7 linked regions of the Homo sapiens genome follow. The protein of the gene in region 2 interacts with the protein of the main gene of each other region in a pairwise test. Each region holds a gene or a part of one and is shown on either strand. Other genes may lie near its edges.

The links.
Region 1: the proteins of TMEM97 (region 2) and AQP12B interact in binary tests that used the Homo sapiens proteins (3 or more experiments, as listed by UniProt).
Region 3: the proteins of TMEM97 (region 2) and SLC14A2 interact in binary tests that used the Homo sapiens proteins (3 or more experiments, as listed by UniProt).
Region 4: the proteins of TMEM97 (region 2) and RNF170 interact in binary tests that used the Homo sapiens proteins (3 or more experiments, as listed by UniProt).
Region 5: the proteins of TMEM97 (region 2) and ASZ1 interact in binary tests that used the Homo sapiens proteins (3 or more experiments, as listed by UniProt).
Region 6: the proteins of TMEM97 (region 2) and PSCA interact in a two-hybrid assay, tested with the Homo sapiens proteins (one large-scale study listed by BioGRID).
Region 7: the proteins of TMEM97 (region 2) and SLC14A1 interact in binary tests that used the Homo sapiens proteins (3 or more experiments, as listed by UniProt).

Annotation. Positions count from the first base shown.
Region 1 is NC_000002.12:240,675,501-240,680,275, reverse strand, and holds the end of AQP12B (putative aquaporin-12B), read left to right. Parts: intron 1-68; coding exon of another isoform or gene 69-128; intron 129-491; coding exon of another isoform or gene 492-790; exon of another isoform or gene 791-837; coding exon of another isoform or gene 838-1,004; exon of another isoform or gene 1,005-1,253; coding exon of another isoform or gene 1,254-1,353; exon of another isoform or gene 1,354-1,465; intron 1,466-1,897; coding exon of another isoform or gene 1,898-1,935; intron 1,936-2,556; coding exon of another isoform or gene 2,557-2,677; intron 2,678-3,531; coding exon 3,532-3,731; coding exon of another isoform or gene 3,732-3,750; 3' UTR 3,751-3,858; downstream 3,859-4,775. UniProt on the Homo sapiens protein: Putative aquaporin. Could form homotetrameric transmembrane channels, with each monomer independently mediating water transport across the plasma membrane along its osmotic gradient.
Region 2 is NC_000017.11:28,321,978-28,326,277, reverse strand, and holds part of TMEM97 (sigma intracellular receptor 2), read right to left. Parts: intron 776-4,300; coding exon 631-775; intron 1-630. UniProt on the Homo sapiens protein: Sigma-2 receptor which contributes to ameliorate dysfunctional cellular processes and slow degenerative progression by regulating cell functions including cholesterol biosynthesis/trafficking, membrane trafficking, autophagy, lipid membrane-bound protein trafficking, and receptor stabilization at the cell surface.
Region 3 is NC_000018.10:45,642,600-45,646,906, reverse strand, and holds part of SLC14A2 (urea transporter 2), read right to left. Parts: intron 3,776-4,307; coding exon 3,726-3,775; intron 2,922-3,725; coding exon 2,747-2,921; intron 1-2,746.
Region 4 is NC_000008.11:42,889,742-42,894,048, forward strand, and holds part of RNF170 (E3 ubiquitin-protein ligase RNF170), read right to left. Parts: exon of another isoform or gene 4,226-4,307; coding exon of another isoform or gene 4,212-4,225; intron 1-4,211. UniProt on the Homo sapiens protein: E3 ubiquitin-protein ligase that plays an essential role in stimulus-induced inositol 1,4,5-trisphosphate receptor type 1 (ITPR1) ubiquitination and degradation via the endoplasmic reticulum-associated degradation (ERAD) pathway.
Region 5 is NC_000007.14:117,378,793-117,383,099, reverse strand, and holds part of ASZ1 (ankyrin repeat, SAM and basic leucine zipper domain-containing protein 1), read left to right. Parts: coding exon 1-114; intron 115-955; coding exon 956-1,031; intron 1,032-2,032; coding exon 2,033-2,089; intron 2,090-3,052; coding exon 3,053-3,162; intron 3,163-4,307. UniProt on the Homo sapiens protein: Plays a central role during spermatogenesis by repressing transposable elements and preventing their mobilization, which is essential for the germline integrity.
Region 6 is NC_000008.11:142,678,821-142,683,615, reverse strand, and holds PSCA (prostate stem cell antigen preproprotein), read right to left. Parts: upstream 3,122-4,795; 5' UTR 3,078-3,121; coding exon 3,053-3,077; intron 2,290-3,052; coding exon 2,182-2,289; intron 1,696-2,181; coding exon 1,484-1,695; 3' UTR 891-1,483; downstream 1-890. UniProt on the Homo sapiens protein: May be involved in the regulation of cell proliferation. Has a cell-proliferation inhibition activity in vitro. May act as a modulator of nicotinic acetylcholine receptors (nAChRs) activity.
Region 7 is NC_000018.10:45,730,419-45,734,725, reverse strand, and holds part of SLC14A1 (urea transporter 1), read right to left. Parts: coding exon 4,255-4,307; intron 3,712-4,254; coding exon 3,522-3,711; intron 453-3,521; coding exon 324-452; intron 1-323. UniProt on the Homo sapiens protein: Mediates the transport of urea driven by a concentration gradient across the cell membrane of erythrocytes.

The sequences.
Region 1 (4,775 bases), on a different chromosome or scaffold from region 2:
GTGGAGGTGAGGGTGCCTGGTCAGTGCTCCTGGGGAGGTCTCTGCAGTGGGCATGGTTTGGGGGGTAGGGGCTGTGACGGCATGTCTCACTGTGGACACCGTCCCGGTGCCGAGCAAGCTGCAGCCAGGTAAGGAGGCCACAGGCTGGGGAAAGGCCAACCTTGCAAGGGGTGCTGGGCACACGGGGGATGGTGTCTGCAGTGGGGCTCCATGCACCTGGGGTTCCCGTCCCAGGTGGCATCTCCACACACCCAGAGCCAGACTCCGCCGAGGGGGGCTCATTCTGGTGTCCCTAAAGCCTCAGGAGGCAGAGAGCCCCGCTTAGATGATATAGGGTGCCATCGTGCACTTATAGGGCTGTGAGCATGGGGCTGGAGCAGCCAGGCCCTTTGCATCCTGGTGGGGCAGACCCGGGACTCGCTGATGCACACAGGGGACCCCAGAGTTCCCCCACAGTGTGTGCCCCTCCTTTCTTATATCCTGGATCCAAGCAGAGGAGCAGCATGGGGAGGTCATGGAGCCCCCTCTTGGACCTAGATCTGGGGATTCTGGCCCCTGGCTTCAGAGGCCCAGGTGGAGCCCACACCTTCTCCTGCACCTGCTCTCAGACACTCGGCTCCACCTCACTGAGGTACCAGAAGGGCAGCTGGGTTCCTATGGAATTCTGGAAGCTTTTTTCAGCTTCTGCTGGCTCTACACTGGGGAGGTCTCAGGGGCAATGCCTCAGCCTCCCCTTGGGGGGAAAGACAGGAGCTGGGGGTCTCTCAGGCACCTGGCCCTGCGATGGTGACACTGACGTCATCGTGATTTGTCGCCATGGTTCTGATGTGGTCACAGTCTCTCAGGCATGTGCAGGGTCCTAGGAAGCATACGAAGTGCATCAGGAACCCCCTCCTGCCCCCGTTGCCGAGGCAGCACTGCCCTCTGCTAGGAACAGCTCCGTGTTGGCCTCTCTGTCCCCACACACTGGGCCTGCAGGGCTTCTCCGAGACTCTTCAGTTCAGGTATCAACCCTGGGCTGTCTCCTGGGATGTGGGGGGCGGATGTTCTTTCCTTGCCTCCCCACGCTCCTCCTGCGGATCCTTCACTCCGGGTGGGTCGGCCTCTTCCTCCTGATCAGCTCCAGAGCCCCCTCTAGTTCCCTGGCATGGAAACACGGCCCGGGTGAGCTGTGGTGGCCCCGGAGGCCTCTCCGCTCCTGCACAGGCCTTGCTTCCTGCGGGTGACGAGGTCCTGGACTCTCTCCTGCCCAGGCTTCTGGGTGCTTTCCTTAGTTCAGCACCAGTGCTCTGTGTGGGCAGCGTCTCCCCCGAGGATCCGCAGCTCCGGGTTACCCGCAGGCGTCCATCTCCGGTATGGTGCTGCCCTTCACTGATCCTGGTTGTATTTCTGTTTCCTGCTTTCCTCATCGCCTCCTGTTTCGGTTGATTCCTTCTTTTTGCTGGTGCCCGTCTCACAGTAGCTTCCTGAGAACGGGGACCTGGCAGGTACACTTCAGACCTCCTGTGTCTGAAATAGTGTCCTGGTTCTGACCTGCACTTGAGTGTCGGTGAGGCCTGGGCAGGGTTCCGGGTGGGAGCTCAGTTTCGTCCTGAGTTTCTCAGGCCCCAACCATGGCCTGTGGTGGCTTCACGGGCTACAAGGCAAAGGACGCAAACGAAGAGGCTTCACGTGACAGGGTTGTATGCTCAGCCAGCTCTGGAGGCTGGAGTCTGAGCTGGCAGCACTGACAGGGTCAGCTCTCCTCGGAGGCTGCTGGGGAGGAGCCTCCTGCCTCTTCCGGGCTCCGGGGGCCTCTGGCACCCCCGGTGTCCCCGGGCTTGGAGACGCAGCACTCCCATGTCTGCCGGTTCCCCTGGCCGCCTCCTCTGTGTCATTGTCTGTTCTCTTCATATAGGGACACCAGTCATCGAATTGGAGGTTCACTCTACTCAAGTATGACGTCACCGTGATTTCACTGATTTTATGTCCCAGGCCGTATTCTAACAAGGGCACATCCTGTGTTCTGGGAAGGGCGTGTCGCTGGGGAAATACTCTTCACCCGGCTGCAACCTCTCACTGTAGAACTGCCTCTGTGGAGAAGCCCAAAGGGCATTTGCGGCTTCTAGGAGCCAAGTAGGAGGAGGCTGGGATCCGTGTTTCAGGCGGGACTCCAGGCTTGGGCGGGCCTGATACTCGAGTCCACATGCCCCCTCTAGAGAGGAACCTGTCTCCTGCCAGGGCCAGGGAGGGGGGCACTGGCTGCTTCTGTATTTTGGGGTTTGGGGCCCTGGAGCTTCCCATGCGGAATTGCCGTCCCTCCTCCTAGGCGAGTCCCAGGGCCACCCCATCCCACAGGGACCCGGGCGCCAGCTTCTGAAAGCATGGGGCATCTGCGGAAGAACTGGGTTGTTTCCCAGCTTTCGTCCCTGCGGAGGGGCGATCCGGCCCCTCCATGTCAGCAGTGTTTGGTCGTCCACATGCTTGTCAGCCCCACGCTGTGCTCCTGCGTCTCTTCCCGTCTCATCCATCTGGATGCTTGACACCTCTGACAGCATCCCTTTCCTGTCATCTTAGGGCAGCTTCAGGAAACCGAAAAACAGGCTTGTGTCCTTCCATTAACCCCTTTATCCACAAGTTCAGTATCAGCATGAGCCCTGGGGAGCTCCAAGGCTGCAGCCAGGAGCCCCGTAGCCAGGTGTGGACATGGGGCTATCTCCCTGGGTGTGAGCGGCCACCGGCACCTGCTGGCAGCACCCCTGAGCAGGTCATCCCGCCTCCCTGGGCCTGCCCTCCTGGGAACAGAGCTAGGACCAGTGTGGGCCTGGAGGGCCGAGTGAGGGGCAACTGTAGGCAAGCTGTAGGCACAGGGGCCACTGTCAGGAGCCACAGCAGCTGCAGGTGGTGACAGGCAGGGCCCCCTCAGGCCAGCCCTAGTGGAGCTCACACACTGTGGGTTAAATCCTTAGAGGAGTGAGATCAAACTTGAAGAGGATCTACTCTCCCCTTCTGCCCGGAACACCTGCCCTTCCCAATGACCTGGAAGGCAGGCGGGGATTTAGGAGTCTCTGCTCCTGGAGTTCTGGGAGAACGTTCGCATGAGGATTTAGCCAGGCCCAGCCTCCCACCCAGGGGCATCCACATCTTTCTTGTCCACTCACATCCCCCACCTCTACGCCAGGCCACAGCCCTGCAAGCAGCCACCCTGGGACGCCACATCAGGTCCCGGAGGAAAATGGCCACAGAAGCTCTGGGAGTGGCTCAGGACAATGTGGGGGGAGGGGAATTCCAGTCACTCATCCCAGAGGGTGGTCCAGAAGTACAAGGAACCCCACCGGCTTGCCCCCGTCCCCATGGCTGGCATACCCAGAGAGAGGGGCATGACCAGGGCGGGAAGACCAGGACCAGGCAGGAGCTGGGCCTCAGGGTTCTTGGGGCTCCTGGCCAGGCTGCCTGGCTCGCCTGTCCTGGCACAGGCCTGGGAGTGGGTGTCCTGTCTGTGTTTGGGCCCAGGAGCCCCGCGGCCCACCTGGGACCTGCCTTCTCTTGCAGGGATGGTCCTGGCTGTGCTGCTGCACCAGGGCCGCCTTCCCCACCTTTTCCAGAGGAACCTGTTCTACGGCCAGAAGAACAAGTACCGAGCACCCCGAGGGAAGCCGGCCCCGGCCTCAGGGGACACCCAGACCCCTGCAAAGGGGTCCAGTGTCCGGGAGCCTGGGCGCAGTGGTGTTGAGGGGCCACATTCCAGCTGAGTGGCCTTGCTCTGTGTGAGCCCCGTGCGAGGGCCCTGCTTGTAGCTGGACCCTGGAACCTTCTGTAGCTAAGAGGGAATCCTGGCCCCCTCCCCAGAAGCCATTTGTCAATAAACCATTTCTAAGACCTGTGTGTCCCCCTGGGCCCGAGAGAGGCTTCTGGAGGGGCAGGCAAGGGTGTGCGGCAACACGGTGAGGCTGGTCCGAGTCTCCCCATCTCCCGCGGGCTCCTTCCTGCCTCTTGTTACAGAAGAAGCAGGAGAGGAAAGGGCAGGATGACAGGGAAGAGCCCAGGGAGTCCGCCAGGTCCCAAGTCTGCCAAGATGATGCTGCAGCCCTGGACATGCCCGGGAGGGAGCCCACAGCCACGGAGGCCTGAGACCCGATGGGATGCTGAGGATGGTGCTGGAGCCTGAGGCTGTAGGCTTGTGAACTAGGCACAGGGCACCCAGTCCCACGGGCCCTGAGTTCGCGACCGTCAGGACCATGGTCCGCTCGCCGCCCAAAGCCAGGTCAATCACTGAGACCTTGGTGGCAGAACTGGGACCTGGAGGCATGGCACCTCCAGCCATTTCCTTCCCAAAGAACAGAGCCGGTCTGGAAACTTCCACCCAAAGGAGATAACGGCCCTCTGCTATGGGTCCTGCTGCCCCACCCAGAGGGAGGGAGTGAGGTGGCCGGTGCTCCTGCCACAGGCTGTACCCCGTCCTCTGGTGGGCAGCAGCCCTGGGCTCAGCCGCTCTGCTATGGGGGAAGGACGAGAGGAGAAAGCAGGGAGATGTCCTCGATGCGGGGGGCTACGGGACACCCCAACCCCAGTGAGACCTCCACCCCGGCCAGCGTCCAGGCTCTTGACACCATCGTGAGAAGGAATTCAGGGGCGAGTTGGCAAATAGTGAAAGACCAGAGATTTCCTGCGAAGCCCAAAGCTCCCACTGGAGAAAGGGAGTGTGGCGCCCTCTAGAGTCCCGTCCCGGGCAGGGGCGCTGGGGCTGGAGGAATCCACAGGATTCCTGGAAAACGTGGAGATGTCTCAGAGCTGCG
Region 2 (4,300 bases):
CCGGTTAAACCTGTGTGGTACAAAATCCAAGGGGAGGGAAATCCCTGCCCCATGGCATCTGTTTGTTCAGTAATTATATATAGGTGAGAGGATCAGAAGGCAGATTCAGTGACCCCAGGGGGTGCCAATGGGAAACGAGCATTTTCAGTGGTTTTAGCTTATCAAGTACACGTGTATGGTCACCTTTTTAAAAAAGCATTGATTATATGAGAACACTAAGAATAATTTTAAAATGAGAAGCACATTAGGGATTAGCCTGATGCTACAGCTTATAAGTCAGTATGATACTATCCAACGCAGAGAAATAAAAGCCAACAAAAAGAGAAATTAATTCTGTTGGGGAACAAAACAAAAGGGAACAAGCTCATTGTTTAAGTGGTCTCAGGCTTCATGTGTATGCAAGGGATTTCCAGACGACTGAGGCAGCCGTGCAGGCCTGCTGACCACAGACATGAGCCTGAGCCACACTAATGTCCCTTTACAAGATCTACCCTGGCTATTTACCCCAGATCCTGTAGCATTCTCCCACAAACTATGGGGACCATCCCCTTCCCTTTGGAGATACTTTCCCAAAAGATTTCTGGGACCTGATTTCTGAGTAAAAATGGGATTTTCCCACCATTTACCAACCTTTGAGGAAGGCATACGTTGCAATGGGAAAGAAAGGCAGCTGAAACACAAGCTCGCAAAACAGAAAGGACTTAAACCAGGCTGGGGGCTCCTGTAGCAGTGGGTCTTTGAACTCCTTAGCATACCACTTCAGCAGGTTTCTAAACTGAAAAAGAAAACGATCATGATGAATTACAGCCACTTGCCCTCAACAGGCTCGGCGCTAGCTCATTTGAAAATACACTGGAGGAGCCTGTCATTAATTAGCCACCCCCCACTACCCCGGCAGCAGATGGCATGTCCAGCTGGCTTTTGTGACACAGCCTAGGTGGTCATTTAATAAAAACTTACTATCCCTAACTCAAATGTTCCCTTCTCTGAAATTTTCTCAACTCTTCCAGCCCCTTCTTTGTGTTACCCAGAATCTGTTCATAATTCCAAGATAACACATCCAGGTGTGTTGGCCACTGTCAGGAGCAACAATAAGTATCTGGCACTTGGTAGGCACTCAGGGTGTTCGCTGAATGAACAAATGTGACATTTCTGTCAACAATATCATTCTTTGTTTAAAAAAACAAATACACATGAAAACCATCCTGACACTTTCCCTTTTGTAATGGCAACTACACACCAAACTCCTCCAAAGGCCAGATTCCCTCAAATGCAGAAATGAATTGAATTTCCCTCTTCTTTTTGCGGGGTGGGGGTGGGAGTGAAAGGGGAAGTAAATCTAACCTCTGTGGCGATGTAATTTTGGACACTTTAATTCCAATATGACAAACAAGTTCCTTAACTCCCCTAATTCTAATTTTTGGTTTATTTTAGGAGACAGGATTTTAGTGGAAGAACAAACTCTGCCCCAAACTACAAACTACCTAGTAGCTTCTTGGTTATGCAGGGTTTTAGCGTCTCAGTTCTAGCTTGGGCCCCACGCTTGTAATTACCTTGTCAAATAAAAAGGATGCGGATCCATGCTGACCTGGCTACAGGCAGAGAAAAGAAGCAGAGTTTAAGGCTTCCCATCTTGGGCTTTTATAGGAGCCCAAAGCCTAGTGCTCTTGGCTCTATGTGGACTACTAAACGTTTGTCACATTTAACCTCCTAGATGTGGCGCTGCCCTGACACACAGGCCTTCAAAGACAAATAAGTCTTGATATTATGATTAATAAAGGCAACTCCAGGGTAAGAATTTATCTTACTTACAATGGAAAATCCAAGAATATTTTTCCTGTTAATTTTTAATCAAAAGATAAAGCCTCGCTATTGTGAAATAGAAGCCCCACTGCTGCAAGAGCACTTTAAGCAAACATCCAGAAACAAATATCCTGTTAGCATATTATTAATTTCAGAAAGGCTTTGGCTAGATAACCAATTTATTGACCAAAGGATATCCAAATTTGTACTTAATTTGAAATTGAAATTCATAGCAATGCCCTTCGCTTCCTTCTAAGCACTTTTCTGGATGGGAATGTGGTTTGAATAGGATTGAATTGATAAGAAACACAAAGGCTAAGTCACTGTCCCTCTCCAGGGTTCTACTTCCTCATCTGTAAAATGAGCAACTTGGACTAGATGTTTTCTTAAGATCCCTTTTTTGCTTTTTAGATTTTTAAAAATACTGGATGACACTACCTGCTTTAAAAGATTGACTATAAAATTATTATTATTTTTTTTGAGACAGTCTCTGTTGCCCAGGCTGGTGGAGTGTGGTGATTTGATCTCGGCCCACTGCAGCCTCAACATCCCGGGCTCAGATGATTCTGTCACCTCAGCTTCCCCAGTAGCTGGGACTACAGGTATGCGCCACCAAGCCCAGCTAATTTTCTGTAGAGACGGGGTTTTGCCACATTGCCCAGGCTGGTTTCGAACTCCTGGGCACAAGCGATCCTCGCTTCAGCCTCCCAAAGTGCTGGGATTACAGGTGTGAGCCACTGCACCCGGCCTGACTGCAAAATTTAAGAGGCATTCTGGGCCAGGCCCGGTGGCTCATGCCTATAATCCCAGCACTTTGGGAGGTCAAGGCGGGTGGATCACCTGAGGTCAGGAGTTTGAGACCAGCCTGGCCAACATGGTGAAACCTCGTCTCTACTAAAAATACAAAAATTAGCTGGGTGTGGTGGCTCACGCCTGTAATCCTAGCAACTCTGGAGGCTGAGGTTGCAGTGAGCCGAGATCGAGCCACTGCACTCCGGCCTGGGTGACAGAGCGAGACTCCATCTCAAAAAAAAATTAAAAAAAAAAAAAGGCATTCTGGCCATTTGAACTTCACTTTCTATTCAATTTGTTTACAACCTCTCTGATCCAACTATTTCATAAACTGAGGCAGACTTGTACAGCACTTTAATTTCTAAGGCCTACAAGATGAGATCAGCAAAATTTAAAAAACAATCACCCAGATGTCGTAATAATGAATTATCATAATCGTAACCAACCATCTGCCCACAGTCATATACCTGCCACCTGATGCCAGAATGAGGCTGGGACTAATTGTGAGTAGGAGAGTAGAAAGCCCAGGCACCTGGCAGATGGGTGAGGCGTGTAGGACCTGGGGTAGAGTGCCTGGCTTTAGGCAAGGCCTTTAATCTCCCTACACTTGTGTCCCCATCAATAAAATAGAGCCAGTAATAGTGCCTACTTCACTATTGGTAAGAGAGTGACTTAATACATGTAGTCTTTAAAATAATGGCTAGCACATAATGATTAATTGAATGTAATTAATACATATTTGGAGATATTCAAGTTTAATCCCATTAAAATCGCAGCTCACGACTGGTCATTAAAAATTATTAGTTATGGCCTCCCTACCAAAGGTAATGAAACTGTTTCCACTTATACCTGACTCTATTTGACTCAACCCACCCTTGTTATACATAAAAGATTCACCTGGCCTGCACGCACGATCTCTAAACCAGTGGTTGCTACTCACCAATCTTGTACTTCTATAATTTAGAATGGGAACACAGACTGATTTCAGAGCCAGATGCTCACTTGTTTTTCCTTATTTTTACCAGAAGCAATGTTACCCAGCTGCAAATGATACTACAAAATGCTTCCCATCCTCTCCTTACCATGTTCTTATCCAAACTAAATTCTTACTGTTTCATAATAAAATAAGAGTTTTTCCAGGCCAGGCGTGGTGGTTCACACCTGTAATCCCAGCACTTTGGGAGGCTGAGGCATGCAGATCGCTTGAGGTCAGGAGTTTGAGACCAGCCTGGCCAACATGGTGAAACACCATCTATAACAAAATATAAAAATTAGCCAGGCGTTGTGGCAAGCACCTGTAATCCCAGCTATTTGGGATGCTGAGGCAGGAGAATTGCTTGAACCCGAGAGGCAGAGGTTGCAGTGAGCCGAGATTGCACCACTGCACTACAGCCTGGGCGACAAGAGACTGTCTCAAAAACAAAATCAAAAAAAAAAAAGAAAGAAAAACAAAAAGTAAATAAAAAAATGAGTTTTTCCAAGCAGTGATTTGGTGCAATCCAAGAAAAAAAATTTATTGTGCATGTTTCAGCCCAACCACTAGGTGATCTCCTACAGGTTTTTTAACTCTAGGGAAACATTCCTTCTATTTCAGGAAGAAAATGACAGATGTTAAATTTTGGCATTTTTCAAAGAGAATATGAGAATAACTCAAGGCGTTTATTATTATTTGCCCCATAGAGAAGCAACAAAATCAGCATTTCCT
Region 3 (4,307 bases), on a different chromosome or scaffold from region 2:
GTTTGGGGTGATGGTAGAAAAACTGCCAGAATATGGGTCCCCAAACCCTTCTTCTTCTCTCATCATGGCCTGCCCCCATGCAACCTCATGTTGGTGCTGTGAATCTGTAAGTTTAGAGATCTTTTACCTACCCATTCAGCAGGTAGATGAGGTGGGGAAGCCCTGGGGAAGGTGGGACAAGATCACTCCAGGAGCTCTCCAGTCTCGTGAGATGAGGTGAAGAGTTGGCAGGGGTGGGGGAGATGGGGGGAGTTGGTGGGAAAAGAAAGCGATAATCTTGTCCAAATCAGCTGAAATAATTTTTTATATCCAAATAGTTTTCCTCTCCTGGGGATCCAGTAAGCATGGCTAAAAGACAGTCCCCAATCAGACCCAATGCTTTGGGTGGACAGCCTCAAAGAGCTTAATGAAGACAGGAGGGGATTTTCTAGGGCAATGAGTGGGGTCTCTGGTTCTGGTTATCTGTTGTTAAAATACTTTGGGAGCCTTGCCTCCATTTTGGGTAATTGAATCTGTTCTGGAAACCCGGCAGAGAACTGAAGCCCTTATCCTAATATTATAGAGGTTTTCATGCATCATGGGATCGGACCACCTGATCTTCACACTCCCTTCAAACGTTGGGATTCTCTGAACCTCCCTGTCCTTCCTGCCTGGAAAACTCCAGCACTGAAGGGTCATCAGTTTTTCTTTGTCCAAGAGTGGTGTGCTTTCTGGCAGATGAGAGAACAACAGAGTGAGAGGTTGGAGAAGAGTGAACCTTAGAAATAGTTCCCAGACAATGTAGAAGGCGGGTCTTGGTTTAAAACTGCACCCCTTAGTGCACATCACTGGGTATCCTAGTTCTCCAGCAGCCCCAGAGCAGGTCCTCCTGATTCCAGTCATGCTACTGTCACTTTTCTGGGTATCCTCCATTTCCTGAGGGTCTTCATGCTGTCACCAGCATGTAAAACCCCTTTGCTATGTCGCAAGGGACTTGGTGGTGTCTGTTTGGGCCTGTGCACCGCCCACCAGTTTGTAAGCATTAGTATGTAGACTGTCTCTATCAGGGATCTGCAAAATACAGCTTGTGGACCAAATCTAGCTCACTGCTTGTTTAATAAAGTTTTATTGACACATAGCCATACTCATTCATTTACACGTTGTCTATGGCTACTTTTATGCTATAATGACAGGGTTAAGACTTTGCCAAAGAGAATATATGGCCTCCCAGCAGAAAATATTTACTATCTGGCTCTTTACAGAAAAAGTTTGCTGACCCCGATCTATATATATCTTTGTATATGTATATATATATTTAAAAAGACCAAATGAAAGCTATTGACTATAGTTGAGAAACAAAATTATGAAATTCATAGATAATTGTCTTTCTATAGTCAGGGCTACCTATTTGTTTTAAATATCATACACTTCATAAAGCCTCCCATGCTCACAAGCAAATAGAAGAATGAAGTAAATTTCCCAAGCTTTTTACACATGGAACTCAGGTACTTTCCTTAACTGAAATCTCTGCTTAGAGATGCTGGTTTGATTTGTCCCAGCAATCCCATTACTAGGTATATACTGAAAGGATTATAAATCATTCTATTGTAAAGACACAAGCACACATATGTTTATCACAGCACTGTATACAATAGCAAAGTCTTGATAGACTGGATGAAGAAAATGTGGCACATATACACCATGGAATACTATGCAGCCATAAAAAGAATGAGTTCATATCCTTTGCAGGGACATGGATGAAGCTGGAAGCCATCATTCTCAGCAAACTAACACAGGAACAGAAAATCAAACACCACATGTTCTCACTTATAAGTGGGAGTTGAACAGTGAGAACACGTGGACACAGGGAGGGGAACATCACACACTGGGCCCTGTTGGGGGATGGGAGGCAAGAGGAGGGAGAGCACTAGGATAACTACCTAATGCACGTGGGGCTTAAAACCTAGATGACGGGTTGATAGGTGCAGCAAACCACCATGGCACATATATACCTATATAACAAACCTGCATGTTCTGCACATGTATCCCAGAACTTAAAATTAAAAAAATTAAATTTTAAAGAGATGCTGGTTTGACCTAAACTAAGAAATGCTTATCCTCCATAATAAAGTCATATATAGGATTCTAATTTATTAATTCCTCCCTGCTATGGAATATCGCCTTGCCCCTTACAAAGACCACTGAATGGTTAAGACTCCTTATTTAGATAATTCCCTGCCCCAATCGTCCCTGTTTTGACTTTAAAATCCCATCAGTGTGAAATTCCTCTCTTTGTGGTCATTAGTCTCTAGCTCAGCCACTAGAGAGCCTTCCCTTCCTAGCCTGTGTCCCCTGACTTACCCCCCTACTCTGTGTCTGCCTAGGAACCACTCAACAAGTTTAATTTTATAGCATCTATTATTTAGTTTAAGATGCCAAGAAGATCACCTGTTAATTACCTTTCCAAAAGACTACTGTTTTTGTTTTAAGTCAACAACATTTAAGACACACACCTTATTGCTAACTCCGGAAATTTTACTGTAATACCAACATCCCTTAATGTCGCACAATAGATAGTTATGGAGATTCTGGCAGAGAATGAAAATCAGCTTCAGGGAAAGAAAGTTACAGGTGTGCTTGGTTCTACACAGGTGCAAGGAGAGGCAAAGAAGGTGAGTGCTGCAACTGATTGAACCAGAGCAGAGAACACAGGGAGAGGACATCAGGTCAGGCAAAGAGCGTTTCTTCCCCGAACATGGCTATTCACCGCTGGGGGCCTTCTCTTCTTCACCGCTTTTCACTGTCAGGTAGTAGATGCGGTTGGCCTCGGGGTAGGTGACTTTGCTGAGTGGGAGTCTGAAGATGGCTGGGTTGTTTGTCGTCAGGAGCAGGAAGATGATGGTGGCAAGGCAGAAGGCCCAGGTGCCTGGTGGCACGCCCACCTGGAAACAAAAGCATTGGGGACTGAAGAAGTTTCCTAGTTTCCTGTGTTGGGCTGGGGACTCTGGGGGAGAAGGATGTGACAGGCGTTGAGGATGGAGATCCTCCCTCCAGTGAAGGCATTGATATTCCTGGATTTGCAATGTCACAGTAGTTGGTCAAAGAATTTAGGGCTGGATGCAGTGGCTCATGCCTGTAATACCAGCACTTTGGGAGGCCAAGGTGGGAGGATCACTTGAGCCCAGACCAGCCTTGGCAACAAAGTGAGACCCAAAAAAATACAAAAGACAGCTGGGCATGATGGTGCATGCCTCTAGTCCCAGCTACTTGGGAGGCTGAACTGGGAGGATGGCTTGAGTCCTGGGAGGTTGGAGCTGCAGTGAGCCAAGATTGCACTACTGCATTCCAGCCTGGGCAACAGTGCGAGACCCTGTCTTGCAAAGAAAACAAAAACAAAACAGATAATTTGAGCCACAATCAGAATCTTTCAATGATGGAGCTGAAAATTGGCCTGAGGATGTTCCCCCATGTCCAGTCACACAGCTCCATCTGTCCGTCGTGTTTTCCACTGCTAGTTACATTGCAATCTTTCAACACACACACACACCCCTCCCTCTCCTAGAGGTACATGTATGCAATTGTCAATCCTCCTCCGGACAACCTTAGATAAACCTTAACAGAGATGTCGTGTGAGCACCAGCTACCATTACCCGCTCAATGTTCCTTTCCCAGACCCCACAACCCCATATGTCCAGAAGCTCTGGGAAGAGCACTTTGGGGTAGTGTTCAGGAGAATCCACACTTACCACTGACATGATGTTGGAGATGGCTGCTTCCATGTATGCACAGAACAGGGCTGTGGAGGAACAAGGATCACCAGAGTGAGCTTCCCAGGGCCTTCCCCCTAAGCCACTGCCATTGCAGACCAGGGAGCCCAGACCAAGAACAGGAGCCCCACCCTCTCTCCTGCAGCCTCAGATTCTGCACCATGCCCTGACAGCTGGCATGCTTGCCTGGCATTTGTTATCTCTGTAGACAGGTGAGGCCAGTCTCCCACCAGACTGTTCATTCTTCGGGCAGAGATTAAAACATATATTTCCTTTTGTCCCCTCCCTGCTTCCATAGTGGCCTTGCATGGAGTCAGGGGTCAATACACATCATATGCTAGTCTACGCTGATGGTAGCGAAGAGCTAGTACAGGCTGGATGATTGTTGTAGGGGAAGAGTGGTCAGACTATACGAGCTCCTGCCAAGGTCCCTCCTATTCAAGACTGTGAGCAGCTGTGATGCTGCTTGATGTTCACCAAGTCTCACCAGGGCTGAACCTTACTAGACCCCTGAACCAGTCCCCAGGAGCCAGGCAGCTGGGTTCCCCCATGGGAGCTGGG
Region 4 (4,307 bases), on a different chromosome or scaffold from region 2:
GCTCTAATTGCAGTATTTTCATTCAAAAGAACAGTTAAATGAGCTGCCAACTGAACTGAAGAGCCTCAAATAAGCTAGGGGTGGGCCACGGAGTCAATTTAGGTTTTTATTTCATCAGGTTTCCTCTCTTAAAATTAGAGGTGCTGTAGCTGTTTCAAAAGTCCTAAGGGCACTGAGAACTACTTGCATCTGCTCAAAGATAACCCAAATGTTATCCCCTGTGTCAAGATTTCCAACCTCTAATTACCTCACAGAGCTGTGAAGGTTAAAACAAATGAACAGAGGTGAAAGTGCTTTGTAAGTTAAGTCTATCAACAAATGCATTGTAATTATTCCTACTCACATTTTCCTCTATGCTATACATTTAGGCCGTTTATTATTTTGTACTTAAAAAAATGCATTGCATTTGTTTCTATGTCCTTCAAGGTGCAATCAATGGTAATGCGAATAAATTATACTGTACAACATATATATAATATATATTATATATAAATATTTGACTACTATGTGATTATATTCTTTTTTTTTTTTGAGACTTTTTTTTTTCTTTTTTTGAGACGGAGTCTTGCTCTGTCGCCCAGGCTGGAGTGCAGCAACGCGATCTCGGCTCACTGCAAGCTCTGCCTCCCGGGTTCTCGTCATTCTCTTGCCTCAGTCTCCCGAGTAGCTGGGACTACAGGCGCCCCCCACCACACCCGGCTAATTTTTTCTGTTTTTAGTAGAGATGGGGTTTCACTGTGTTAGCCAGGATGGTCTTGATCTCCTGACCTCGTGATACACCCACTTCAGCCTCCCAAAGTGCTGGGATTACAGGTGTGAGCCACTGCACCCGGCCTGTGATTATACTCTTAAGATATTGCTTCATGTACATTTCCAAGAGCTCAGAGATCCAGGATATTTAAGTATTGCATGTCCATATTATTTTATTTGCATCATTTGACAGCAGATATTCTCAGCGGTGTTGAGAGGAAAAGGGAAGGGCACTGCATTTTCTTGTCCCATGGAAATCCCAACAAAAGCCAGGCTGTCAAATGGAGATCTACTAATGCCATTTGACCTGCTTGTTGGGGGCTTCGACAGCACAACTTCTGCCATAGTTTCTCATAAAATTGGAGTAAAAAAGCAACTGCAGGTGCTAGTGGCTCAAAAATGAGGTATTGTACCATCACTTCAGTTTGGAAAGAGGCTGGTCTGATTTATAACTCCAGAAGATAAACAGGAAACAAAATTTCCTACTTGGGGAGATGACATAATACCTCAGTCCTGAAAATGAATTCCAAAATCAAGGACTTCTGTTCTCCAACTTTTGTTGTTCACAGTCAGTGATTATCCAGAACTAAACAGTGCTGCTGATTCTGTCCAACCATACAGGCTCTAAACTGAAGCCCAAGCAGTTGTTGCTTGGACATGAGGAGCCCTGAATTTTAGTTCCAATTCTGTTACAACAACTGTGTAAAAGTAAATAAAATTCAAACGTTTTTAGAACCTCCAAAGCACCTTAAGCCTTGAAAGAGATATGACTATGATCTGGGTCACGTAACATGTTTACAATTCTGTTTCTTAGATTTTTAGCTTAACTCTTCCTCATTGTTCTTGTTCTATAAACAACTAAAAAAAGACTAAGTCTTTTTTTTAAAAGAGACCAGATCTCCTCCTTCTAATTGCTGATTTTTATTACAGATTAACTGCCTCCTTTATTGTCCTGTACCTAACTCAGACCAGATGGTGCCCCAAACAGGGGTCTCATGACAGTTACATTCTTTCTTCCCTAAAAAACGCACCTTGACTAATCAGATCATTATAACTGTACATTAAGCCTTACATTAAGATATTAAAATTCTGTTAAATGTCCCTAAATTTTGTCTATATAAACAATCCCAAATGTCTATACTGACGAGCACTGACTTCCATGCTTTTAAATCTGTCCTTTCCCAGGTGGCCTGTCCTCAACCTTTACACTTAAACTCTCTTTAAACTCGATTTTGACCTTTTAAATTATTTTAGGTTAACAACTGTGACTTTATTTCTTCACTTCCTTCTACTGCTAAATTTCTCTGATTCAGAGTTTCGGAATAGAGAAAAAGCCACATCAAAGCTAACATTAGAGTGGTTATCAGTGAGAAGCTGGACTGGCAAAACCAGACCATCACCCTCCCTAGGACACAGTTTCACAGTTTCAATTCTTTCAAGTATGAATTACTTTAACAAGAAAAATAAAGCCAATACTTGCTTCCTCTCTCGATATGCAAACTGAGCTTCAATGCCCGGTCAATGCCCATTCTCATCTACCACCCAGTCGCTCAGTTTCCTGACGGTGCCTACTCCGGAGGCACCTACACTGACCTAAGTGGCATGACTGGCATGTCAACTGCTAAACACTCTCACTACACCACAAATTTCCTTCTTGAAAAACAGATATTGCTCAAATTAATGTTTATAAATTTTTAAAATTTATTTTTTGAGACAGGGTCTTGTTCTGTCACCCAGGCTGGAGTGCAGTGGTGCACCCTTGGCTCACTGCAGCCTCGACCTCCCAGGCTCAATCAGTCTTCCTGCTGTGACTACAGGTGTGCACCACTAAGCTCAGTTAAATGTTTTATTTTTTGTAGAGATGGGTTTCACCATCTTGCCCAAGCTGGTCTCCAACTCCTGGGGTCAAGGAATTTACCCACCTAGGCCTCCCAAAGTGCTAGGATTATAGGCGTGAGGTAGCACGCCCAGCCAAAAATTAATGTTTATTGGTGCCAAATATTTACAGAATCCACAAGTGACTACAGTTCAGTTTTAGAATATGTAGATACTGTGCTCAATTGCTTCACCCTCAAAATTTTATTATTATTAATCACAGAATGTTAAGCACTTAGTTCCAAGCATATAAAGTAATATCTTACTGGATTTATTTTTTCATGTTATTTGGAGGCTCTGTTGCAGCGTTTTTTTTTTTTTTTTTAAACCCTAGATTCAGGCCAGTGCTGTGATTCACGCCTGTAATCACAGCATTTTGGGATGCCAAGGTGGGTGGATCACTTGAAGCCAGGAGTTTGAGACCAGCCTGGCCAACATGGTGAAACGCCATCTTTACTAAAAATACAAAAATTAGCCAGACGTGGTGGCACACGCCTGTGATCCCAGCTACTCGGGAGGCTGAGGCATGAGAATTGCTTGAACCTGGGGGGCAGAGGTTGCAGTGAGCCAAGATCGCACCACTGCACTCCAGCCTCGGTGACAGAACAAGACCTTGTCTCAAAAAACTGCCCAGATTTGATCATTACACATTGTACATATTTGTATAAAAATACCACAGGTACCCCATAAATATGTACAACTATTATACATCTATAAAAATTAAAAATACATTTTTAAAGAATGAATTCCTTTCAGTCAGGAATCATATCTTATTACTGTTAGTAGTGCGCAGGGTCTTACATGTTGTAGTGGCCACTAAAGGTTGTTTACATTAAACCCAAAAACAAGGTTATTAAATGTATAGAACATGGGATGTAATCTATTTCATGGTATCCTGTAAAATATGAAAAGAAGAGTTACTAATACTCGGTTTTGAACTGTTTAAGATTCACAAAAACTGAACCCCATCCATCTTGGAAACTGTGCAGTGTAACTGATAGAAGTTTGCAGAGAAACTGGCTTTGCTATTGCTCAGCTGGCTACATCTTATTGAGCAGTATCTTCAGACAGCAAACAAGCACAAGTTCCAGAGTCAGACAGCCCTGGACTTACATAAAGTTTCAGTCTCAGCTTCCTCATACGTAAAAGGCATTAGGTTGAACCATATCAAACTGCCACTCTTTTTTGGGGCGGGTGTGGCAGGGGAAGTGCTTTGCCTTGTGAAGTTTATAATGAGATAATGAAGGTAAGGCATTTAGCATACTGCTTGGCACATCATATAGGCTCTCAGTAAATGGAAGCTACAGTGTTTGGTTAATATTATTAACAACCGCCAAGGAATCATGATAAAACTAGCCATGTTTTGATATGATAAAAACTAGCCATGCCTGCCCCAGAGCTGCTCCACATAGCATCTCAAACTCTCTTTAATCACAGCTCTAAGTATGTGTTCCCTGGGAAGACAGGATGCAATCTGGAGCACTGTCACACAGGACATGCCCTCTTTAATCTGATAAGCAGCTGTGGGTGAGAACTAGCCTCCAACTAACCGGAGTAACCAGACAGCTAAGACAAGTTCAACTCACCTCTCCTCAGGCATTTCCAAAGCTTTCAGGGAAGGAAAAAAAATAAAACACACAGAGAAAATAGAAAAATAGGAAATTCCGGGACTTCCTGGAACA
Region 5 (4,307 bases), on a different chromosome or scaffold from region 2:
ACTTTCTTTTACTTTAAATCCATTGGAAGGAAAACTTCAACAGCTAACTAAAGAAGACACTATTTGTAAAATATTGACAACAGATTCTGATAGAGAAAAAGATCACATTTTTAGGTAATATAGCATGTTTTAGTTCAACAGAATACCTATAAGTAAAATTTGTGTATATTTTATTGTAGTAAATGTGGTGACTTATTTAAAATATATGATATTTTAAATGTTTACAAGCATTTTTAAATGTCTGGGTTTTTAGTGTTCTCCAGAATTTTAGAAAATTTTTATTCATTTTTATGTACTAACACTAATGATAATAACTTTAAATGTAAACTTTAAGTAAGATATCAACAATAAAATCTATTTTTAAAAGGTTCTGAAATTATATTAGTGTTCAAACAGTATAACACCTTGTTTTCTAATTATTTTTAGTACAGTTCTAATTTTATAAGCTAAAATTAAACATATACTTTTCCCCCCAGAACACCACTGTTGAGTACATGGCCAAAAATAATTCTCTCCTTACCCCATTTAAAGTTACTTAAATTTTACTTATTGCAATTAAAGAGGTGTGGTTTTTTTTCATTTTTTGTTTTTTGTGGGTTTTTTTGCCTCAAACACCTGTGCTCAAGCAGTTCTCCCGCCACAGCCTCCCAAGTAGCTGGGACTGCAGGTGTATGCTACTGTACCAGGCTGAGGAGATTTTTATGTGCAGAAATTTCACAAGGAGTACATACTGGCATATATTTTCATTTGGGGAAAGATGAGTTATACTCCTCATATATCTTCAGTCACAAAACCTTACTTATTCCTTTGATATAGCATAGGTCTGGTGTGCAGATTGCAAATATATTCTACATGAATTCATTATTATTCATATTCTCTTGCAATATAAATGTATATTTATCGCTTGTGCATTTATAATCTGTTCTGAAATTGACATTGCTATAAATGTATACAGTTCATATACAGCATTTGGAGATCTGGAAGTATTTTTACATGGTCTTGGACTTGAACATATGACAGATTTACTAAAGGTAAGATCTTATATAACCTACAGTGAGTTATGCATATATGTTAATTTGTTGGTTAATATAATGTTAGATATTAATTCATAAACATGTCTATGAATAACTGCCAATTTACTTTTCACCATAATTTGTAGTACATCCCAATTTTAAATTTGTGAAAAACATTGCAAAAATGTATTATTCTAGAAATTTACATAAATTAGAATCTGAGATTAAACAGTTTTTACCCACTGCCTAACCTTCATATACACCTGAGCCCTTAGTTTGTTTCTGTAGTTGCTCATCTTCTTGAGTAGAATATTGGAAGAGCGTGATTTTAAACCAAACACCTGGTATCAGATTCTTGCTCTAATGTTTAATCACTGAAATATGTGACTTAAATATCTCATTTTCTTCATAAGGATAATAATACCTAGTGTTGGGTTGTCATGAAGGTTAAATCAGATCATATGCCAAGCACTGTGTGGGTGTTTTAAGCATACATTATGGGGTTTGAGTCCATGACAGTTGTTACCAGCTAGGTGGAGATACTGAAGCAGTAAAGCACTATTTAAGATAGACTCTTCTTGGGAGTGTGCACATTCTGTTAAAATATTTCAGAGTTGTGCTTCATTGTATAATCTTGAAATGTCTCCCTATTTGGAGAAATCTTGAGTAAAACTACATGTTGGTTTAATGTGATACAGTCAGAAATTTAAAATATTCATAAAACATAATTTCTGCCAAATTTTATAGAACTGCTTTTCTTTTAATGTAAGCAAATATGAATGGTAATCATTTGAATCTGGAAAACTAGCTATATTTATACTTTTTAGGTGAATATAATTATTATGATACTCATTACTGTCTACTCAGTAGCATAGTTCTGCATGTATATATCCTGTCCCCTCTAGAAAATTGGAATTTGCTTCAGAGTGAAGCAAGTAACTAACTTATGAACATTTGCCTACTTCTCCTTCTACTATTTTAATTATATGGAAAGGTGGCCTTTTTTTCCTTTTATACAGGAAAGGGATATAACGTTAAGACATCTTTTGACCATGAGGGAAGATGAATTTACAAAGGTTAGTATCAATTTCAAAAATTCCCGATACATTGTTTGATGTTTTTAAAATTGTGGATCCTTTTCTTCTCTCTTTTTAAAATGCCAGGGCTATAGACAAAAGATTGATCTTCTACTGTGTCCTTGATTAGATATGATTATGGATAACCGTATCTAAAATCTTGTGTTAGTATTAAGTTACTTTAAGAACATGTAATGACTTATAGTTTGGGTTTTGTTTTTGTTTTTTTCAGATTGTCATGACAGCTAGAACTGATCCTTCAGTTTCAAATGTGCAATAGATTTGTAAAATGGGGCACTTACAAATAAGAGATAGTTTTTTTATGTATATGGGTATTAACACGTCTCCCAAGCCTTTTGTTTGGTTCTCAAAACTGAGACCTTTTATTTTGCCATCTAGTATTATCTAATAACATATAGCTGCGGGATGTATTAGAGACACTTTGATAAATAGCATATGTAAAAAGCAATGATCTGACTGCATGACCACATTGGAAACTTGACATTTTTAATATCACTAAAAATCAGTAAGCATACTACAAAACTAAATCCAGTATAGAAAATTTAGTTTAACACTAAAGGTAGAATACAAACAAAGATAGGGCCTAATTCTCATTTATCACTGATAATATTTTAAATAAAAATTTGAAGGAAATTTTGTTTTACTGTGTTTTTTTGAAATATTACATATTAAGTTCTAGTAATTTGTTTTGGGAGTCCATCATAGTTGTTATGTATTGCAAAAAAATTGACTATAGTTATTATATATCTCAATATTCTAATGCTGTAACTAACATCAATCACAGTTATAAGAAAAACATATTTTTTAGAAGTGTGTTATTTTTCCAATATATGCCTATTTTTTCAAGATGTGAATTCATCAAGAAAACATCTTTAGCAATTTTGAGTTTTAAATTACTCAAGTATAACTAACTTACTGTACCTTAAAATTATTTCTGCTTAGAATGGAATTACCAGTAAAGACCAGCAGAAAATTCTGGCTGCTCTTAAAGAACTACAGGTAGAAGAGATACAATTTGGAGAGCTATCTGAAGAGACAAAGTTGGAAATCAGGTAAAATTAACTTATTTGTTTATATTATTAATAGTGTTAAGAACCAATTGTTCTTTTTAGTTTAATTTTCATAATGTCTGAGTCATTTTACTTGATACCATCATTTTCCCAGGGTAATAGATTTTGGAAGATACTGTGTTCTGAAATTAGATGTACTTTGTAAAGTCAATTTTTATAAAGTCATTTACCAAGAAGCAAACAATATGTCTTCTTGTTAACTCACATAGAAATATTTTTGTTTTATTTTTTCATTGCATCTTGCTAAATTGAACCTTACAAACAATCCCATGCTTTTTATAGTATACCTTTAAAAATCATTTTAGAGGTTAAATTGAAAATTCAAAGTAGTAATATTTTCACTTAGGGCAATAAGAAAACATGTCTCATGTAGCTCAGTTCTATTTTCAGCCTTACTGTATGAGAAATTATGTTACCAATATGTAAACTTCATTTCCAATATTATGAACTTGTCAAGCAATGGTTATTAATAATCCCAAATCTATTTTGAAAATAATATTTGATTTTATTAATACATTATAGAGCAATAAATGATTTTTAAAAATTTTTTGAAATATAGATTATTGGGATATTTCAAAGATACACAGGGAAGTCCCATGCATTCTGTACCTAGTTTTGCCCAGTATTGGTATCTTTTATAACTGTAAGACAATATCAAAACCAGAAAATTTACATTGGTATGACCCATACGGCTTACTCATATTTTGTGAGTTATGCACTCATTTGTGTGTGTGTGTGTGTGTGTGTGTGTATATATATATATATATATATATATATATATATATAATTTTATCACATTTATAGCTTCATGTAACTACTTCCGTGTTCAATGTACTTAACACAGGGCTGTCTCATAATACCCCTTTATAGCCACATCTAACCTTCTCCCCATCCCAACCCCTAGCAACCAATAATTTGTTCTCCATCTTTTTAATGATGTTATTTCATGAATATTATATAAATAGAATCATACAGTATATATCCTTTTGAGATTAACTTTTTTCAATCATCCTAATTTTCTTGAGGTTCATCAAAGTTGTTGCATGTATCAGTACAATAGTTAATTCCTTTTTATTGCTGAGTAGTATTCCATGGTATGTATATACCACAGTTTGTTTAACCATTTA
Region 6 (4,795 bases), on a different chromosome or scaffold from region 2:
TTCAGGAGGGAGGTCTCCCCGTGAAGTCACATGTCAGACGGGAGGCCTGGCTCTTTCCAGCACAGCTCTGCCCACTGTCTGCTCCATGACCCACCCTCAGAGCTCCAGGCCAGGGTTCCAATCCTGGCTCGGTATGGGATGTGGGCAACAGACCCGTTCCCTTTCCTGAGCCTCTGTCTCCTCTTCTCTGAAACCGCCCCCCGAGCCCCACCCCTAACACCCTTGGAGGCCTCACCCTGAGCAGGTCCCCACCCAGGTCACAGGCTGCACCCCTAGCCCTAGGGCGGGAAGCAGGCTGTGTGCAAAAGGCTTCCCCTGAGCGCAGAAGGCAAGTGTGGATGGTGTCCTCCCACTCAGGGGCCTGGGGATGCTCACGGGGCACAGATTCTCCCAGAAAGAAGCCTCTGGAGGTGTAATGGGCACCCCAGAGAGGGAAGGCGCTGGGGTTCAGGGTTGGGGGAGGCCACCTGTCACCGGGGACCCTGCTGTAGTGTTTGAATGCTGTATGGTGGGTGTGCAGCTCTAAAACAAATTTTGAAAAATGGGGGTGCTCAAATCAGGCCAAGGGGATGGGTAGGAGCTTGAATGGTAGCAGTCCCTCCCCCCGGAACGCTCTCCTTCCTGTGAACTTTCTGGGTCCATCCTCCCAGCAAGGAGGGGTCATAGATGAGTCGCAAGGCTCAGAGAGGTCTGGCCACATGCTCCAGGCAGCACAGCAAGTGCAAGTCCTGGGAACTGCCCTCCCACCCTCTGCAGGGACGTCCTCCTTTCAGGGGCCAAGCTTTGCTCCTGTTAGGGCGGAGGCTGCAGCCCATGTGACCAGGGCCCTGGTCCAGACACAGCCCTGGATCCGGTGCCCGCCTGGGGTGTGCAAGGACAGAGGGTCTCTCTGGCTTATCCAACAGGTGTTTATTAAGGGCCTACGCTGTGCTGAGGCTGCCATTCAGGGAGCCCCACGAATGTGAGGCCTGGCCCCTTCCTCCAGGCCTCCAGGCCCCATCTCTGGAGACTCCCAGGAACTCACGTCGACTCCTGTCCTCCAGTTCTACTCAGTCCACTTCATCTCAGCCTTTACCGGGCCCTCCTGAGTGCCTGTCCCCTGCTGGGTGCGGGGGACACCACGGACCAGACCTGGCTCAAGTCATAGATGGGGTGGGCAGGGAAGGCTTCCTGGGGGAAGAGGTGCCTGAGCACAGGGTTAAGGGTGGAGAATGCTGGGCCATGGAAACAGCAGCAGAGAGGGTTGGAGGGGCCATCTGCAGGCGGATCTGTGTCAATAGAGCCGATCTGCCGGGTGGGAGTCCTGGAGAGGGCCATGGGAGGGTCAGGGTGGGGGACAGGGGCGCAGACATACATGGTCAGACTTGCGTTAGGATGTGCCTCAGGAACCAGGACAGGCTCCCACTGGGCCGGGTGTGTGAGGAGTGGCACAGAGGCCTGGGGCACCACACCCAGTGTGGGCTGCAGCGGGGCCCCCCAGAGCCTAGAGCTGGCCGGGTCCCCAGAGCAGCAGGCCGAGTGCAGGGAGCAGCGCAAGGATGGCAGCAGCCGGCTGCAGGGCATGGGCCCCGCTGGCGTTGCACAAGTCGGTGTCACAGCACGTGATGTTCTTCTTGCCCACGTAGTAGTCCTGTGAGTCATCCACGCAGTTCAAGCTGCAGCCTTTGCTGATGACGGTCAGGAGGCCAACTGCGCCTGGGGAGCAGCGGGATCCGGGGATGGGGCTGCCCTGTGTGCTCACCTGCCTGACCTGCCCCAGGCCTCCTCCTGTCCCACCCTGCCTAATGCTCTAGAGTCCCCCTGGGCTGGCCTCAGGATTGCAAGCAGTGCGAGGGCCTGGTCTCGGCCCTGGTCTCAGCCCTATCCAGATGTCCGAGGCAGATGGACCACCCGCTGAGCGTCAGAAATGGGGTGAGTGAGTAAGTGAGCTCAGGGATGGGGAGGGACAGATGGGTGGAGGAGTGGAAGATGGAGGATGGGGAGGGACAGATGAGTGGAGGAGTGGCAGATGGAGGAGGATGGCTGGAGGGACAGATGCTGGGTGATTGTTGGGGGTGCAGGTGCGGGACGGGTCGGGGACAGGTGGAAGGAAAACAGCACACAGATGCGGACAGATGGCCAGAAAGATTAATAGTTCAGTGGCAGAGACCTAGGCCTGGCGGCTGTCGTCCCCCCACTCACGGATGCGCGCGGTCCAGCACTGCTCCCCCAGCTGGGTGCAGTTCTCCACCTGCAGGCAGTCCTCGTTGCTCACCTGGGCTTTGCAGGAGTAGCACAGCAGGGCAGTGCCTGTGGGGTGGAGTGGGAGGGGCCTCAGAGGCTGCCCCATAGCACTCCCCAGGAATGGGGGCTCCCAGGCAGGTGGGCCTCCATGGCGGTGGCCTGAGGAAGTCCTCGGCGCCCTCTTGTCACCCTCAATGTCTCCTCCCCATCTTCACGGCCCCCTGCTCAGTGCCTCCGAAATGTTGCCCTGTTTAGTCCCTCGGTGGCTGCTTTTGTGACCGTGTGTTTCAGAAGAGGAAGCTGCGGCTGTGGGGGTGACTGAACCCGGGACCCTGGGTCGGGAGGGTCCCACCTCAAGCAGAGCAGCTCCCTGGGACCCTTGGAAGCTGCAGTGCTGGGACTGGGCCGGATGTAGACCCCCGGGTCCTCGCAGGACACCCCCAGCACCTCCCCCTTGTGCCCCAAAAACCACTTCTTAGCCTGAGGCTTCCTGTCCCATGTCTCCCAGCTCCTCATCAGCATCTCTGCCCATCCATCCGTCAGTCTGTCTACCTGCCCCCTAGGAGCCAGGCCCTGCCCCACGGTGGTGAAGGAGAGTGACTCCGTGCTGCCCCTGCAAGCCCCGGTCACAGGGGACGGCAGGGAACAGGTCGCTGCCTGGTCGTGCCAAGAGCTTCCCTGGAGGAGCGGAGGCTAGGGCAAGAGCCTCACCCCCTTCCTCTCCCTTCCTCCTTCCTTCCCCTCCTCTCCGTGTGCCCTGCAGGTATCCCTCTGGCCTCCCCGGCTCACCCCTGCTCCCTTCCCTGCTGGGGGCCAGCCAAGGCCTCACCTGGCTGCAGGGCCAAGCCTGCCATCAACAGGGCAAGCAGCACAGCCTTCGTGGTCACTGGTGGGCTGTGGTGGAGAGGGCCTCAGGTGACTTTATATGGCCTCAAATGGGGAGAGGCTGGACTGCCCACAGTCAACACCAGCGGGTTTCCTGGAGCCAGTGAGGGCCCCGGGGCTGGGCAGGTCCGAGTCTCCTCCCTGAGCGACCTGCACCTCCCTCTCCCTTTGTCCTTCTTTCCACCTCTGGAGGACAGAGCCTACCCAGGGCCATATCTCAGCCACCCCGGGCTGAGGGCTGAAACGTCCTCAAGACCCAGATTATGCCTCTCCCACCTCCCCCACCTCACAGTGCAAGGCCAGACAAGGGAGACCCTTTCTCCAGACTCCTCCAGGCCTCGGCCTTCCAGCCAAGGATGAGGGCACCTCCCTGGGCCCTGTGCTCCTATAGAAGCTGTGCCGCCCTCTGGGGCCCACGGCCCGCAGGGTGATGAGCCTTGGTCACAGCGTCACTGACAGATCATTAGCAGGTGCTGCAAAGGACAGGGGCAGGGGCTGTTCCGGTATAAACCAAAAGTAACATTCTAAGGCCCCCCAGCCATCTGAGTGGAACCCTCCTCTTGGCAAGGGCTTTCCGAAGTTAACCTGAAAAACTGGTTCAGGCCATGACAGCAAAGGGTTGGATAGCCTCATTATCCCTCCTCCCTTCAGAACTCTGGAACAGCCAGCGTTAACATCAACACAGGCCTTCAGTCTGATGAGAAACATTTACCATCTATTGTCTCGGAAGCCTGCTACCTGGAGGCTTCATCTGATGATAAAGCCTTGGTCTCCACAACCCCGTATAACCCAGACATTCCTTTCTATTGATAACTCTTGCAAGCGATTGCCAACCAGAAGATGTTTAAATCCACCTATAACCTGGAAGCCCCCAGTTCCAGCTGCCCACCTTTCTGGACTAAACCAATGTATATCTTCAATATATTTGATTGATGTCTCATGTCTCCCTAAAATGGGTACCATCAAGCTGTGCACTGACCACCTTGGGCACATGTTCTCAGGGTCTCCTGGGGGCTGTGTCACAGGCCATGGTCCCTCATATTTGGCTCAGAATAAATGTCTTCAAATATTTTACAGAGTTTGGCTCTTGTTGACACAGGGGACAGCCTCCCTGGGGAGGAGACCCTGTTGGACGGGCCTTCATTTATGGGGCATTCAGTGTGGGCTGAGCCCTGGGCTAGGTGCTTTACCCTCAGGACCTTGAGTGACCCCCTCAGCTTGGAACTTTAGCTGCAAACGAGTCGGGGAAGTGCAGCTTTTAGCAGCCTCTGCAGTAGCAGGAGGCAGCGGCTAGGCCCAGGGCTGTATGGCCTCTGTTTGCCCCAGATCCCCTCTCCGTCCTGCTCCATGTCCTGGGAGGCTGGTCCAGCTCCCACAGGCAGGAGATGAGAGAGTGGAAGAGGCAAGTTCAGGCCAGCTCTCCTGCCAGTCAGCTGGGAGGTGGTGGCAGTGGCTATGGCCCTCTAGAGCAGGCCCAGCCCGCTGGGCGGTGGTGGCAGTGGCTATGGCCCTCTAGAGCAGGCCCAAGCTCTCATGCCAGTCAGCTGGGCGGTGGGTGGTGGCAGCGGCTATGGCCCTCTAGAGCAGGCCCAGGCTCTCATGCCAGCTGGCTAAGTGTTGGTGGCAGTAGCTATGGTCCTCTAGTACAGGCCTAGGCTCTCCTGCCAGCCGGCTGAGTGTTGGTGGC
Region 7 (4,307 bases), on a different chromosome or scaffold from region 2:
GGAGGTTCGGAGAACTGGAGTGCGGTGACGCAATCATAGCTCACTGCAGCCCCTAACTCCTGGGCTCAAGTGATCCTTCCCCCTCAGCCTTCTGAATAGTTTGGACTACAAACAAGAACCACCGCACCCGGCTAACCATTTTTAAGTGTGCAGCTCAATGACATTAAGGACAATCACATTGTTGTACAACCATCACCACTATACATTCAGAGAACATATTTCATCTTGCAAAACTGAAACTCTGCCATATAACAACTCCCATTCCCTCCTTCTGCCATGTTTTTTTTTTCAAAAAGGCATTTTGAAAACCAATTGTAACTTACCAAGTCATGGACATAGCACATACAGGGAGTAACAGCCACCAGAAATAGTCTCCCTTGTCCGAAAAGACAGCCATGAGTACTCCCACCAGGGTGGCATTGTAGCCATAGAGCCCAGATGCTATTAATGACCTGTGGGGCAAGAGACACAGCACGGACATTTCCTGGGTGAGCTTTGGTTGCACTTGCACATAAATAACACTAGTAACTTCCAGATCATATTCATATTAAAAAATGAGATTATATTTGGAAATGTATTTCAAAGTCTACGTAAGCATCGTACAAAAACTAATAAAGACATGAAGTGAAATATACATAGATAAAAATATAAATGTGCATTTAGATCAGTGGTCCCCAGCCTTTTTGGCCCCAGGGACAGGTTTCATGGAAGACAATTTTCCATGGATGGGGAATGGGGGATGATTTCGGGATGAAACTGTTCCACCTCAGATTATCAGGCATTAGATTCTCATAAGGAGCAAGCAACCTAGATCCCTCACATGCCCAGTTCATAATGGGGTTCGCACTCTTATGAGAAGCTAATGCTTCTGCTGATCTGACAGGAGGCGGAGCTCAGGTGGAAATGCTCACTCGCCCACCGCTCACCTCCTGCTGTGCGGCCCAGTTCCCAACAGGCCACAGACAGGTACCTGTCTCCAGTGCAGGGGTTGGGGACCCCTGATAGAGAATGACTCCCTCTACAGGTGTCACGGCTAAAGACAGGTCTACAGTGGCTGAGAGGAAAGGGGAGTTTAGTAAGGCAATCTGCTCTGTTTTCTTTTAGCCTTTCCTTTGGAAAGTTATTCTTTTAAATCAAGAGCCTCTGACTTGAAGAGCGCTTTTAGCATATGAAACTGTTGCTTAAGTTTGATTTCTTGGTGAGAGATATAAGATTCCTGAAATGTAAATTCACTTTCACAGTGTCTTTGATCTTATCAACATTAATCTTCCAGGTTAGTATACATTTTTGTGTCCTGATGCTTCTATTTTGTTGTCTCCAAACGCACATTTCAAAGTTATTGCAAAGAAGAACAATTGCTTTTCTCTTACTTGGAGAAGTATCCCATTTAATTATGTGCATGTTGAGCACCCAGTTCTTTCTGAGGTTACTTTTTGCTTAGTATTCAATCTCATTTCTTCCCCGTCTTCTTCTCCTTCTTTAGATTGAGGGGGTACATGTGCAGGTTTGTTACATAGATGTATTGCATGATGCTGACTGAGGTTTGGGCTTCTATTGAACTCGTCACCCAAATAGTGAACAAAGTACCTGATAGGTAGGTTTTCAACACTTGTTTCCCTTCCTCTCCTCTTTTGGAGTCCCAGTTGTCTACTATTTCCATGTCCGTGTTTACCCAGTGTTTAGCTCCTAATTGTAAGTGAAAACGTGTGGTATTTGATTTTCTGTTACTACATTAATTCACTTAGGATATTGGTCTCCAGATACATCCATGCTGCTGCAAAGGACTTGATTTCAATCCTTTTTATGGCTATGTAGTAGTTCGTGTTGTATATGCACCACATATTCTTTATATAATCCACCATTGATGGGCACCTAGATTGATTGACCTGACAAGGCAGGATTCCCACAGCTCTGAGAGTTGGCAACGTCTGGCACCGTGAAAGGCACAGGATCCACTTCCCAAGGGCCTGTCACTCAAGGATGATGTCTGTAGGGGGATGGGGGAGTAAAGATGGTGAAGTGAGTAGGTGAGGCCTAATGCTGGGCTCGAGCAGGAGGTGCTATAGCCAGTGAGCCACACTGCAGGGGCTGGTAAGGGATAGTGTGACAGCTGCTTCTTGGCTTGTTTCTAACTGGGCCAGGAGGCACCATTGCAACAGGCAAGATGATGTCACGTACATTAATCCAGATGAACATTAAATGTGGGGTTCCCTATTCAAAAGTTCTTTGTTTCCCTTAAATAATCCTTGAGGGCAAATGGGAGGTGATACAATTTGCAAAGGTACAACTCAGAGACTGGGACTACACATGACAGTAGAGAGCCATGCAGACTTGTCCTCTCAACAACTGACTTGGAGATGTTAATGCTTGAGTTTGATCAGTGGAAAATTAATGGCAACATCTACAAATTGTGGAATGCCATAGTTAAAGCCACAGGAAGACATATATTTACTTAAAACAGAGAATTTCCATTTTAATGCAGTCTTTTCAGACCAAGGAAAGTAAAACATTTGAAACTAACACATATAAATGACTTGTCTTCTAAATAATATCTGACAAAAAATGAGTTGATCATGTTTCATCAGAGCAAAATCATAAAGGAATATTCAGTATGGCACAATTATAGACTCCATCCCCAAACTGAGGAGACCTTTTCTTGGCATGCATTGGAATAGAGTTTAACCTAAGCTATAAAATCCCCTTCTACAGGGAGCAAATCAGACTCCTTGAAATTGATAGAAAAGTGGAGCATTTGCTAACTCTCTCCCCACGGACCTCTTTAGGCAATTTGCAGCCAGTGTTACAAGAGCTTAGTTGTGTAATGACCACACTGGGGATTGGGATTATGCGTTGATCTCAGACACCTGGAATACTGGTTCCCTCCCTAAAGGAACTGGCTAGTGGGGAGCTATCTACTGCCCTGGTGAGAGTCAGCTCATCACTTCTTCAATGACAGATCAATTTATAAAGTGTGTGCTATTTTTAATCTAATCAATATATCAGAAGACTCACTAAGGCTTCTTAAGTCAGAATCCACTCAATTGGAATTCATGGTTATTCTTTTCTCCAGGAGCTGAGCTGACCTTTGCACTGTCTATGAAGAATGAGTTTCCTAAACTCATCATAGCAACAAGATATAACGGGGGTTATTAAGCCACTAAAACTTTTTCTGAATTCATATGCACTTTTTCCCAAATAGAATGCTGACGACAAATAATTTTATCAATCATTAAAGAAGATCCCTTCAGAACCTCTCCAGGGAAATACTTGTAGCTTAGTTCTGGTTAGCACGTAATGCCACAAGAATCTGGCATCATTTAGACCAGCCATTTATTCAGATATCAAGAGCAAGAGACTGTAACTGATTCCCTGACCTCTGACTAAAAACAAATATAAACAGTTCTGTGGACTAAATGTTGTTTATCCTGGGAAGGATGTGGTTTTATCACTGTTGCCCACAGTAACTGGTCAGCCCCTGTGTCTCAGAAGGGAGCTGAGAAGGCTTGAAAGGGTACACCTACCTGTCCTGGCTGAGCAAGAGGGCCATCAGAGTGGAGACCACTGTTCCCAGCCAGCCAGTGAGAGCCCACCAGGGGTTCTGAACAAGAAGTCCTACCAGAATCAGGATTCCACTGACGGGGTTGTTGACGAACACCACTTGGGATATGCCCCGGAGAATCCAGTCAATGAACTGGAGCACCACGGGTTTGTCTGGAAGGGATGAGGTAAAGCAGAGCTAAGGAAGCTGCCAAGTGATACTCTTCAACCACAGGCCCACCCTGAGCAAAATCAGCAAAACCTCCTGGAAGTGAAACATTTTTGATATTTCTTTAATATTTCTCTCTCAACCCATTGTTGCATTAGTGGCACCCAGATCCCTGAAAGCCTCTATCTACTGTATGCTCAACCCACACTGCCCCTCCTAGAATCTAAGCTCCTGAAAGCATCTAATGCACTTATTTTCATGCTTATAGGTACAAATTCTGAAGCCAAAGGAATAAATTTAAGTTTTAAGTACTGAAACTACAGGATGAAGCCAGGTGCCTTCTAATATGAGCTGGGCCCTGGCTACTGTCTCCATAAGAAAAAAAAATGGAGAGGTTTGCAGGTTAAAAGATAAAAGTAGAAAAATGGTGAGTAAAGAGATCTATAAAAAGTTGGAGAATATAACTAAAGGTATAAGTAGAAGTACCAGGAAACCATTTCCCCCAAAGCTACTTCTCCTGTCTCTCCAAAATGTGAAAGGATAAATACCTTTAAGCTGGTTGGCAAGTTCTTTCATGTCACCGGTGACATAGCCAAGAGCT